Linked DNA regions of Homo sapiens. The protein of the gene in region 3 interacts with the protein of the main gene of each other region in a biochemical or structural test. Each region holds a gene or a part of one and is shown on either strand. Other genes may lie near its edges.

Region 1 (3,587 bases), on a different chromosome or scaffold from region 3:
TTTTTTGAGACGGGAGCCTTGCTCTGTCGCCCAGGCTGGAGTGCAATGGCGCAATCTCGGCTCACTGCAACCTCCGCCTCCTGGGTTCAAGTGATTCTCCTGCCTCAGCCTCCCGAGTAGCTGGGATTACAGGCGCCTGCCACCATGCCTGGCTAATTTTTGTATTTTTTAGTAGAGATGAGGTTTCACCATGTTGGTCAGGCTGGTCTCGAACTCCTGACCTCAGGTGATCTGCCCTCCTCTGCCTCGGCCTCCCAAAGTGATGGGATTACAGGCGTGAGCCACCCGCACCCCGGCCCAACTTGAAGATTTAATTGTTAGCTTTCTGCTCTAAAATCATGTTACACCTTTCCTTCTACAACCAGAGGGGTTAAAAATTTAGTAACACTAGAAAAGATGGCATATTGAAAACTTGTTTCTTTGCTAAGAACAGTTATTTCTGAGGATATTAGAAAGAAAACAGTATTAACAGAGATGAGAAAAGGAAAGCCTTATGAAAGTCTGTGCCACTTCTAATTTTAATTCCAGAAAAAAATGCCTAGACTGTAAAGTTTGACATAAAAATAGTAATCAACATAAGTTAATAAAAATTGCTTAGCAGATACCTAATAATCATTAGGAAACAATATCCAAATATGAAGAAAACCATAATTCAGAAATAACTTTTACTTCTCAGTATCCTGGAGATACAACTTGTGTAGACCTAGTTACCAACCTCTGTATATCTGTAACAGTAAAAAATTTCAAACAGCCAAATGTCCCCAGAAGAGGACTGGTTAAACTGTATCTGTACAATGGCAGCAGTTTATAAACCACTGTTTGTACCTACCTTTTGTGTAAAAAAAGGGAGAGGGAGGAGGAGAGAACATACATTATATTTGTGTATATATGCACAGACTGTCACAAAAAACATAACACAAAAAACTTCTTACAGTTTGCCCTTTTCCATGTTTCTTTTTTTTAGAAGTGTACATATTACATAAAGTAAGTTTGAAAACAATGAGGACATTATAAAGCAAAAACTTATAGGCGAAAATATTATAAGGGCCTAGTACCCAGAATATATAAGGAACTCAGAACCCAACAACAAAATTTCAATGAACAAAGGACCTCAACAGACATTTCTTCAAAGAAGATACGCAGATGGCCAAAGACAACAAAAGATGCTCCACATCATTAGTAATCAGGGAAATGCAAATCAAAACCACAATGAGAGACCACACCCATGAGGATGGCTATAATTTTTAAAATGGCAAAATAAGTGTTGGTGAAGGTGTGGAGAAATTGGAACCCTCATACATCAATGGTGGAAGGTAAAACGGTACAGCTGCTGAGGGAAAGTTTGACAGTTCCTCAAAAAGTTAAATGTGCGATTTCAACATGACCCAGCAACTCCACTCCCAGGCATATACCCCAAATAATTGAAAACACGGACTCAAATACTTGTACACGAACATTCATAACAGCACTATGAACATTAGCCAAACAGTAGAAACAACTCAACTGGATGAATCGATAAACTTGTGGTATATATCTACAATGGCATACTTACTATAAAAAGTATACTTAGCTATAAAAAGGAATGAAGTAGTGATAACATGTTACAATGGATCAACCTCAACAACACATTAAAGCTAGACGAAAGAAGTAATACACAGTGTATGAGTCTCACATGAAATACCCGGATGTAAATCCAAAGAAACAGGAAGCAGATTGGTGGTTGCCAGGGACAAGGGCGGTGGGAGGAGAAAATGGAGAGTAACGGGACTTTACTTTTGGAGTGATGAGAATGTTTTGGAGCTAGATAGAAGTGGTGGTTGTACACCATTGTGGATGTACTACCACTTAATTGTTCACTTAAAAAGTTAATTTATGTGAATTGCATCTTAATTAAAAACAAGGATAACATTCCAACTCCTGGACATTATCCTTCCTTTCCATTTGATGTCAGGCCCGTGTTAGAATTCTCATCCGGTTTGGTCACTGCACTTAAGAAAGATGTGGAGAAATTAGGACGCACAGTTAAGAAGAAGGATAACACTGATTAAGGTAGTGCTTTTCTAGGTTTCCCCTAAACAATTTAACAGATGGATAGTGGCACCACTTACGAGATGGAAAAACCAGCGGAAGGAAGATTTGGGGGAGAAGTTAAGTTTGTCTTGGGCCTGTGTTTTGCAACCTGAGTGTAAAAGACATATGTTAAGTCTTCAGTGGCGAAACACTAAAACTAGAAATGGATCAGAATTTTATCTTTGGATGTGACTTCTCAAGGATGGTCTTGTCACTTCAGTGCCTGGTCAAATGACAAGATGGGCAATCTTTTCCTGAAGGTCCAAGCACCTGAACGTGGCAGGGTGACCCGATTCCGATTTGCTTAGAACAATCCTAGTTCATGCCTATTGTCCCTCATGTAATTAATATCACTCTCAAAATGTCTCATTTTGTGCAATAAATTCTGTAATCGTTGTTGCAGAAAATAAATGAAATTCATTAAGCCTTCCAATACAATGGCAGGTATAGCAGGCTTGAACACATCTTGGCAGTGAAGAAACATACAAATAATGCAGCTGCTTATTTTCAGATGTCTCGTCTCAGAACTTATTTCAGAAGTTAATAGTATAGGAGATAACTTTTTTATTCTTACAGCTTAAGCAAAGATTAACCATATCCCCTCCCCTTTCCTTCCAATTTATATGATCACAGAGTTTTAGAATTGCAAGGGGACCTGAGAAGGTATATAGTCTTATTGTCCTTTCAGTGAACACGTGTTTTATGACATCAGACACAGCTGGTCGTATGTCTCCATTAGTCATCTTGACAGTAACATCTCCAAATCCACAAATAGGCACTGTTCAATCTTATTGAAAAACAGGTTTTGTCCTGAAAATTAGGGATCCAGTAACTGAAGACATGTTGTTGTCTGAATTAGTTTTGCTGCCTTCCAACACAAGCTTGTAATATATTGTAACTTTAAGTCCAATAAAACATGGCTTCACACTACTAGCAAAAAAAACCCAACAAAATATAGAGATCCCATCCCCAAAAAAGAGACTTACAGAGTTTTTAAAAGCATGTTTATGTGACTGCACATAAATGTTTGTGTAAAAAGAGCATTATGACAGTTGATACCACAAAGATTACAGTAAGAAAAAGCACTTTATGACAATATTTCACAAATTCACAAGGATCACTTTAATATACAAAGCAACTGCTACTATTCTGAACACAAAGCAGCTATTATGTACATAGTGTTAATAAAATGCATTGTAACTCAGTACATTTTTTTCTTTACACATAAAGCACAAAAAGATTTAGATAAAAAAATTAAAACAGGGATGTTTCTAGAATGTAGGGAATTTTATTAGAAATGTATTTCCCTCATTATAGTTATTTATTTAGTATTCAACTCCAATAGAAACATCAGAGTTAAAAATCAATACCCTGTTTTGTGCTGACAGTTGTGGGGGAAGTCTTCTTTACCCCAACCCTCAAAAACCAAAAAGCCAAACACCTTTCTAGGAACTTCCCTGATTATTTTGCTTCTAAAAAGTTTCAAGTGATACATCTGGGTTAGAAATAATTCCTTT
Region 2 (2,260 bases), on a different chromosome or scaffold from region 3:
CAGCTACCGAGACAGCTGTGTGCCATGTTTGTGAGGGTGACCATGATCTGTCTTCTGTCCACTGCTTTTAGCAGGAAAACTGGCAGTGTGGCAAGGGGGTGGTTCTACTTCAGAACAGAAGTATCTAGAATTGGTGTTGCTAAGTAAAAATGACTGGGGTAAAGGCACAAGGGAGAAAAGATCAGAGCGTGAGCATCCTGCATTCAGTAATAAACAGCATTTCCCATCGGAGGGGTCTGTGTTGAAAGACTCCCAGGTAGTTATGGCTTTGAGACAGTGAGGAAATGATGTCTCCGTAGCAGATTTATTTGCCAGGCAAAAGTAGAATGTCTGCCTATTTGATGTCAATATATTAATGTGTCAGATACATTGTAAAAAATTATTACATGGTTTTTGAAAAGGGAAACATGCAAGAAGCCAGGGAAATGTAAAGGAGGTGATTTTTTTTTTTTTGAGTAGGAGCAAAAAAGAAAAGGGAGCAAAAAATCACACAGAGGGTGTGTATTTAACTAACTTTGTATTTTGCCACACATTGTTTTCATTTACAGCTATGTCTGACAAATGAGCACGTTTGACATCACTGATAAATGCAACACCGTCTAGGGCCTACGAGAAAACCAGGGGGCTCGGCTCCGCTGGAGCCTCTGCCCGTGGATTTGTTTAGGGAAGGGGAGTCGAATATCTATTTTTCTTCTTAGTAAAATTATCTGCCAGAGAAACAATGAAGCATGAAAAAGTACTATTTAGAATGTGCATGCCTATATATGATTTTAAAATGCTAATTGTTGCATTCCGGGAAACTTTCCATTATATATATGCATATATATGTATCTTTGTAATTTCAGTGAATTTTTAAAACTAGTATGGCAGGTTGAAAGCAATGCACCTGTTTACTTGCACACACCATAAATCGAAAAGCAGGAGTGCGCTTTCCTACCGGTCTCTATGAAACCCCCAGACAAGAGGCATAGTTAACTACTACATTTAATAGCCTTCTTCTCTAACACAGTAATTTTTATTTAAAAAGGAGACTAAACAGAAGTCAGGGGTAGGTGGTTCTCCATGACTGCAAATAATAATAATAATGATGATTTTTTTTAATGTACAGCTCTCACACAAATTTCATTTTGTGAACACACTGGTAAGTACACGATGCTGGGGCTTCCAAAATGTGGCGTATCCCACTGATGGCTCCAACTTGCGAGTGGGCTCAGTTCTGTAATTGGAATGAAAGGAATTTTAACACTATTTAGACAAAGATCAAACGCAGCGTAAAGGGGAAAGCTAGATTTCCTCATATGATTTTTTTTTTTTTAAATTTAGAGACTTATTGTAATGAATGGCACTTACTCAGGATTTAGGAGTTCTTTGTAAGAAAAAAAAAACATGTATTTGTTTGCTACTCCCACTATACTTCAAAGTTTTCAGTAATTGTTATTTCTAAAAATGCCTTTTACTAGGAGTTAACCTTCTCTTACAGCCAGCCACTCAAACCTCATTTTTGCCAGCACCTTTGCATTTGATTTTCTAAAGTTTGGGGGCCCAAACCTGCTTATTATATTCAACTACCTTGTAGATTCCTATCAAAATGCTTAATTCTACACAACTATATTTTCCTTCCAATCCAGGCCTCATTTGTCATGAGATAACTGCAATAACTACATCCAGAATATCACTCTTATTTTGAGAATGTTTGCCTAAAATCTTTCATCAGATGCTTTTTTGTTAAAAGCATTCTCTCCATTTCTGCTTCTTCAGAGTTTGTGTATCTCTTAGTTGTGATGAGGAAAAAAAAAAAAAAAGGAAAGAAATATCTGAAGTCAAGAACACTTGACTTCAAGCTCATGAGGGGAGGTTTACTATTAAGACTTTTGTTAAGCAAAATTAAGTGTGGATTCAGGAGCCTGTCTAAACTAGCACATAAAGGAAGGTCAAAATGTCGAGGTTACACACTGTCTTCGTGTTTTGTAAAAAATAGGCAGGAAGGCCAGATGATAAACTGGCCAGAACTTAGCAGCACCAAACACAACCTGTTTTCTTAAAAATAAGTCTTTCAGTCAGAGTTGCAATATTATCTTTTTTTCTTTTAAGAACGGCAGAAAACAAAACAAAAGTCATCGTGTTTGGCTGTATTTTCAAAACAGTGCTGGCTTTGTCTAACATTCTATTGGTGTGCTAGGGGAAGATGACTAAGAGTGCAAACTGCATGAATTTGTAACATTAGTTTCATGAATTTGTGTCATTTAAAAATAGGTCAGCG
Region 3 (5,557 bases):
CAAATTACTCTGATTTTCCCATCTTTCATAGATGCTTTTTTTTCAAACGAGGATACAGTCATCGTATAATGCATTTGATTAAACCTGTTTAGTCTCTTAATCTAGAACAAGTACTCTCATTGTTTTAATGACAATAACTTTTTGAAGTATCCAGGCTGGATTTCTCATAAATGTCTTACTTTAAGTTATTTGTCTGATTGCTTCCCCATGGCTTTAAGTCATTTCTCCATCCCTTTACTTCCCGTAAACTGGAAATGTTTGAGTTGAGGAGACTGAGTTTAAACATTCACTGGTGTTGTCCTTTATATTGTGTCGCCTAGGGAGGCAGGAGGTCCAGTGTCAGTATTGTCGTACCTGGGTAGCTGGGAAGTGCCAGATTGCTCCATTTTCAAAGTAATATTTTTTCAACCTGTGTTGCTTAGTTATCTATGATGTGTTACTTGGGCACTTTATAATTATCCCGTTCCCCAATACTCCTGCATCCTTTAGAATATGTTGATGACCTTCACTGTGATTACCATGATTACAAAATCATGATTTTTCTAAATCTTTCATTCTATTTACATTATTTTAGTTGGTATTCCTGATTAAAAAGGATTGTTCTTCCTTTCTTTCTCTTTTATTTTTTTATTTTTTTTTGAAACAGAGTCTCACTCTGTTGCCTAGGCTGGAGTGTGGAGTGCAGTGGCGTGATCTCAGCTCACTGCAACCTCTACCTCCCAGGTTCATGTGATTCTCCTGCCTCAGCCTCCCGAATAGCTAGGACTACAGGTGCCCACCACCACACCTAGCTAATTTTTGTATTTTTAGAAGTGATGGGTTTTCATCGTGTTGGCCAGCCTGGTCTCGAACACCTGACTTCAAGTGATCTGCTTTCCTCAGCCTCCCAAAGTGCTGGGATTACAGACATGAGCCACCATGCCTGGCCTTTTCTTGTTTTCTCTTTTCCCTCCCTCCCACTCTTTGGAATCACAGTGGACTCATGGATTAATTTTTTCTGATTCAATTTGTTAGGATAAGTAATAGTCATTATTCTTTTTGATGTTGACATTTTTCAAATTTGGCCTGGGAGAGCCCGTTCAAGCCAGCTCCTGTCCTGTTGACATAACCATCTAGCACTTGCCATGGTCTCACTTTTTAACCTCTATTGTTTCAAGATTTGGAATCACCCATTTCTTTAAAACTCCTGGTTTCTTCTAGCAGTTATATTGGACTTTGGAAAGCCTACCTGCTGCTGGAGTATTATTCCTTCTGGGCCTTTTTCAGTGGACAGAGCTAGGAAATATATGCATCTGTGTATAAAATAAAGTTCATTATATCATGAATTCATATATATCAGGCTTCAGTAAATGAAAGTAAAAAGTACATTAGAAATCCTGAGTTTATGTAGTATTTCCAGTCCAAATTTAGCAGTATAGAGCTTTTGTCTTCACTTCTGTGTTTATGTTTAATCTCTCATCATTTACAGGAAAAATTTTGGCTCCAATTACATTAGTGTATTGTTTCCTTTATAATATACAGTAAGTTCTCACTTAACATGAAATGATGGATAATGAAACCAGTTTTTTTCCTCATCAACTTTATAATGAAAGGATGTTGTAAAAATGAGAACACTTGGACACAGGGTGGGGAACATCACACACCGGGGCCTGTCGTCGGGTGGGGGAGTGGGGAGGGATAGCATTAGGAGATATACCTAATGTGCCGGGTGCGGTGGCTCAGGAGTTCGAGGCTAGCCTGGCCAACATGGTGGTGCAAACCTGTAATCCCAGCTACTCGGGAGGCTGAGGCAGGAGAATCGCTTGAACCTGGGAGGTGGAGGTTGCGGTGAGCTGAGATCATGCCATTGCACTCCAGCCTGGGCTACAAGAGCGAAACTCCGTCTTAAAACAAAAACAAAAACAAAAACAAAAACAAAAAAAACGAGTTAATGGGTGCAGCACACTAACATGGCACATGTATACATATGTAACAAACCTGCACGTTGTGCACATGTACCCTAGAACTTAAAGTATAATATAAATAAACAATAAAATAAAAAAGAAAGGATGTGGAACAAAATGTTTATTGAGGACCTGGTGTGCGTTGTTTCTCTTAAAGTCAGTTTCCAAAAACCTGTCGATGATTTTAAGTGAGGGCACACTGTATAAAAAGTAAGAAAATTAGACAATCAGTATTACTATTAACAGTAAACAAATTGAGCAGAATTTGAGATTTATTTGCTTTTTTATGCTTAAATATTTCCCAGTGTGAAGCTTTAAAGTTATTTGAAATATTTGTGTTACCAATTTGGCATACAATTAATTTTTTTTTCTATTTATATTACTGGGATTTACTCTACATTTTTTGAGACAGGGTTTCACTCTGTCACCCAGGCTAGAGTGCAGTGGCACAGTCATGACTCACTGCAGCCTTGACTTCTTGGGATCAAGCAAATCCTCTCATATCAGCCTTCTGAGTAGCCAGGACTACAGGTGCGCACCACCATGCCCGGGTAATTTTTTTGTGAAGGTGAGGTTTCGCTGTGTTGCCCAGGCTCCTCTCAAAACTCCTGGGCTCAATCGATCCTCCTGCCTTGGCCTCCCAAAGTGCTGAGATTTTAGGCATGAGCCACCATGCCTGGCCTACATTTTTAATTTGTTTTATTTTGAATGTAAAACGTTTATATGGTTCAAACATTAAAACTATATTTTAAAAAATATATACTCCAAATCTTGATCTCATCTTCTCCTTATACCCTATTCATAGCTACTTCCTATAGGTAACCATTTTCATTAGTTTCTGGATTTTTTTTTCCCTGTGTTTCTTTTCTAAAAATGTGTTAACATTTTATGTCTACTCTTATTATCCATCCTGCTGCATGGAAGTATTTTATATACATTTTTCTGTACTTTTTAAACTTAAGAATTGATTTATAGGAAATATTTTTTCTTAGTTCAGAGAGGTTGTCATTCGTTTTCCAGCTCCATAGTACTCAGTAGTGACTGTAATACAGTTCAAACCAGTCTTCTGTGGGTGGACAGTTGGGATCCTGCAGTGAATAACTGTATACTGTTTCATGTTTAAGGAGCTGTGTCTCTAGGACACATTCCTAGAAGTGGGATTGTTGGATCAAGGGTAAATACATACATAATTTTATTAGATATTAACAGATTCCCCTCCTTAGGAATTGTCATATTTGGCCTTCCAGCAGCAGTATATGTGTGTGTGTCTGTCCACACCCTCAGTCAAGATTTGTTGTCAGCTTTTGGGTTTTTTCCAGTCTGATAGTGAGATACCATGATATCTCGTGGTAGCTTTTATTTTTATCTTATGAGTGAAAATGAGCATTTTTGCTTATATTTCTCAGTGCCATTTGCAGATTTCTCTGAACTGCCGTTCAGAGGTTTTACTTACTAAGGAACTATTAGTGACCATTTTCTAACAGTGAGTACTCTTTACCCTATCATAAAATTGTCACTTGTACTTTTGGTGCCAAATTCTTCTATATCTTTATTGGGTGAGTTATATTTATGATCTTTAAAAAAATTATATTTGAATAAATATTGTGCACTAGCTATTCAAAATAAGGATTTAGATGCAAAGGTTTTTTTTTTTTTTTTTTTTTGAGACAGAGTCTTGCTCTGTCACCCAGGCTGGAGTGCAGCGGCACAATCTCGGCTCACCGCAACCTCCGTCTCCCAGGCTCAAGTGATTCCCCTGCCTCAGCCTGCCCTTTTAGCTAGGTTTACAGGTGTGTGCCACCATGCCCAGCTAATTTTTTTGTATTTTTATTAGAGACAGGGTTTCACCATGTTGGCTAAGCTGGTCTCGAACTCCTGACCTCACATGACCCGCCCACCTCAGCCTCCCAAAGTGCTGGGATTACAGGCGTGAGCCACTGTGCCCAGCCTGTAAAGATTTTTTGTTGGTATAAAATCCAGAATGGTACCAGAATGCCAATTTTATTCCTTTTTAAGAAATAGCTCTAATTAAAGGTGCAGCACTTCAAACGTGATTTATACAGTTGTTTTTATAGGAAAATGGAAATATATTGTAGGGATAGGTAGCAGGACACTAATAGTGAGTCCCACTCATGACTGTAAGTAGTGACTTTGGGAGGTATCTTAAATACTGATGTCATTAAGTAATTAACTTGAATTACTTGTATTTTACTTTTAGTTATTAAGCTGACTGCTATTATAGTAAATATGTGTCTTAAACTTAGAGTGAAATGGAAACTGCTTAGAAGCTTAGCTGTGTAGGAGTTAAAGTGCAGGGGAACAGATGGGAACATTTAATTTATAGAAATAATTCTGGTGGAGTTCTAGGGCTGTGCCTATTTGTTTTAGTTGTTGTGAAGAAGCAAGCCATCTTGTATACTTAAAGAATGATGTCATCCCTAATTTAGTGGGGTGGGAGGAGTGAGAGTATTTAAAGATCATGTGGATATTAAGATACAGAAGTCATAAAATATTTGTAATCTTCATAGTATCTGTAGGTTAAGTAGTGGTTCTAATTTCTGGGAGGAAGCTCAAGTACTCCTTATTTTGTTGAACCATATTTAATTTAAAAGACCAACCAGCAGTTGAAAATTTTCTATTGCTGTTTAGAATAGATTCATCCCAACTTTGGTAGAGGAGTCCATGGCTGAATATTGCCATGAGTGAAGAAAGATTCTTTCTCACTTTCTTCTGGAAGCTTTGTTTTCATCCTCCTTTGGATTGGCTTCTGAGAGACCATAAAAAGAAATGGGTGTTGATTGCATTTAATGGTTCCTACTGTGAACAAGCAGTAGGTACCGTTCTTGCCCTTTCAGTATCTGCAGACTCATTTTATCAGAAGAGTGCAACTGATAAACTTTGCATAAGAGAAAATGTACTGGCCAAACATTGATTTTGCTTACATACACATACTTAACACGCACATTCTTGACCTACATCTATTTAAAAAAAAAAAAAAAAAGAACTTGTATATAAAAATCTGAACAGATTGGAGAATACTTTGCCATATAAAAATTTAGTATTTTGTATTTATTGTATATTTTCTCAAAATATTACAAGGCTTTAAAATATTTTAGAAATAACAATAATTGGATTCATACATAATTTTATAGTAATACTTTTGTATAAAACCATAACAATACTTTTGTATAAAGCAAAATTCGTTTTACCCTTTTAGTGACTTTTATGTCATAAAAGACTAAAGGATGGCACTTATAGATTAGCACTATGAACTAACTTGTCTCAAGGTTAACTGGCAGCCTCAACTCTCCAGAACCTGTCAATGAACAGAAAGCAAACAGAACAACACTGACTTGTTGAGAGTTGTGATAAATTTCATAAGAAAAACGTTTGACTTTCTAGCAAGTGTTTATTTACTCTTTTCTTATAAATACCTTGATTATTTGGTTTCCTGGCTCATAATAGATTAGAAGCAATAAGATGTTAGAACAAGAAGGATGAAATGGGATGATAATAGAAAAGACATGCTGTCAGCAGTGATAAGTGACATGGACAGGAAGGCAGGAACCAGAAAAACTTTTGAAAAATTCTGTGGTAGACTTTCTTATAGGGGT

Evidence for each region.
Region 1: the proteins of BACH1 (region 3) and CREB1 interact in a test that uses a peptide from one of them, tested with the Homo sapiens proteins (one large-scale study listed by IntAct).
Region 2: the proteins of BACH1 (region 3) and MAF interact in a test that uses a peptide from one of them, tested with the Homo sapiens proteins (one large-scale study listed by IntAct).

What each region holds. Positions count from the first base shown.
Region 1 is NC_000002.12:207,602,902-207,606,488, reverse strand, and holds the end of CREB1 (cyclic AMP-responsive element-binding protein 1), read right to left. Parts: 3' UTR 501-3,587; downstream 1-500.
Region 2 is NC_000016.10:79,593,338-79,595,597, forward strand, and holds the end of MAF (transcription factor Maf), read right to left. Parts: exon of another isoform or gene 1,217-2,260; coding exon 1,123-1,216; 3' UTR 501-1,122; downstream 1-500.
Region 3 is NC_000021.9:29,336,044-29,341,600, forward strand, and holds part of BACH1 (transcription regulator protein BACH1), read left to right. Parts: intron 1-5,557. UniProt on the Homo sapiens protein: Transcriptional regulator that acts as a repressor or activator, depending on the context. Binds to NF-E2 DNA binding sites. Plays important roles in coordinating transcription activation and repression by MAFK.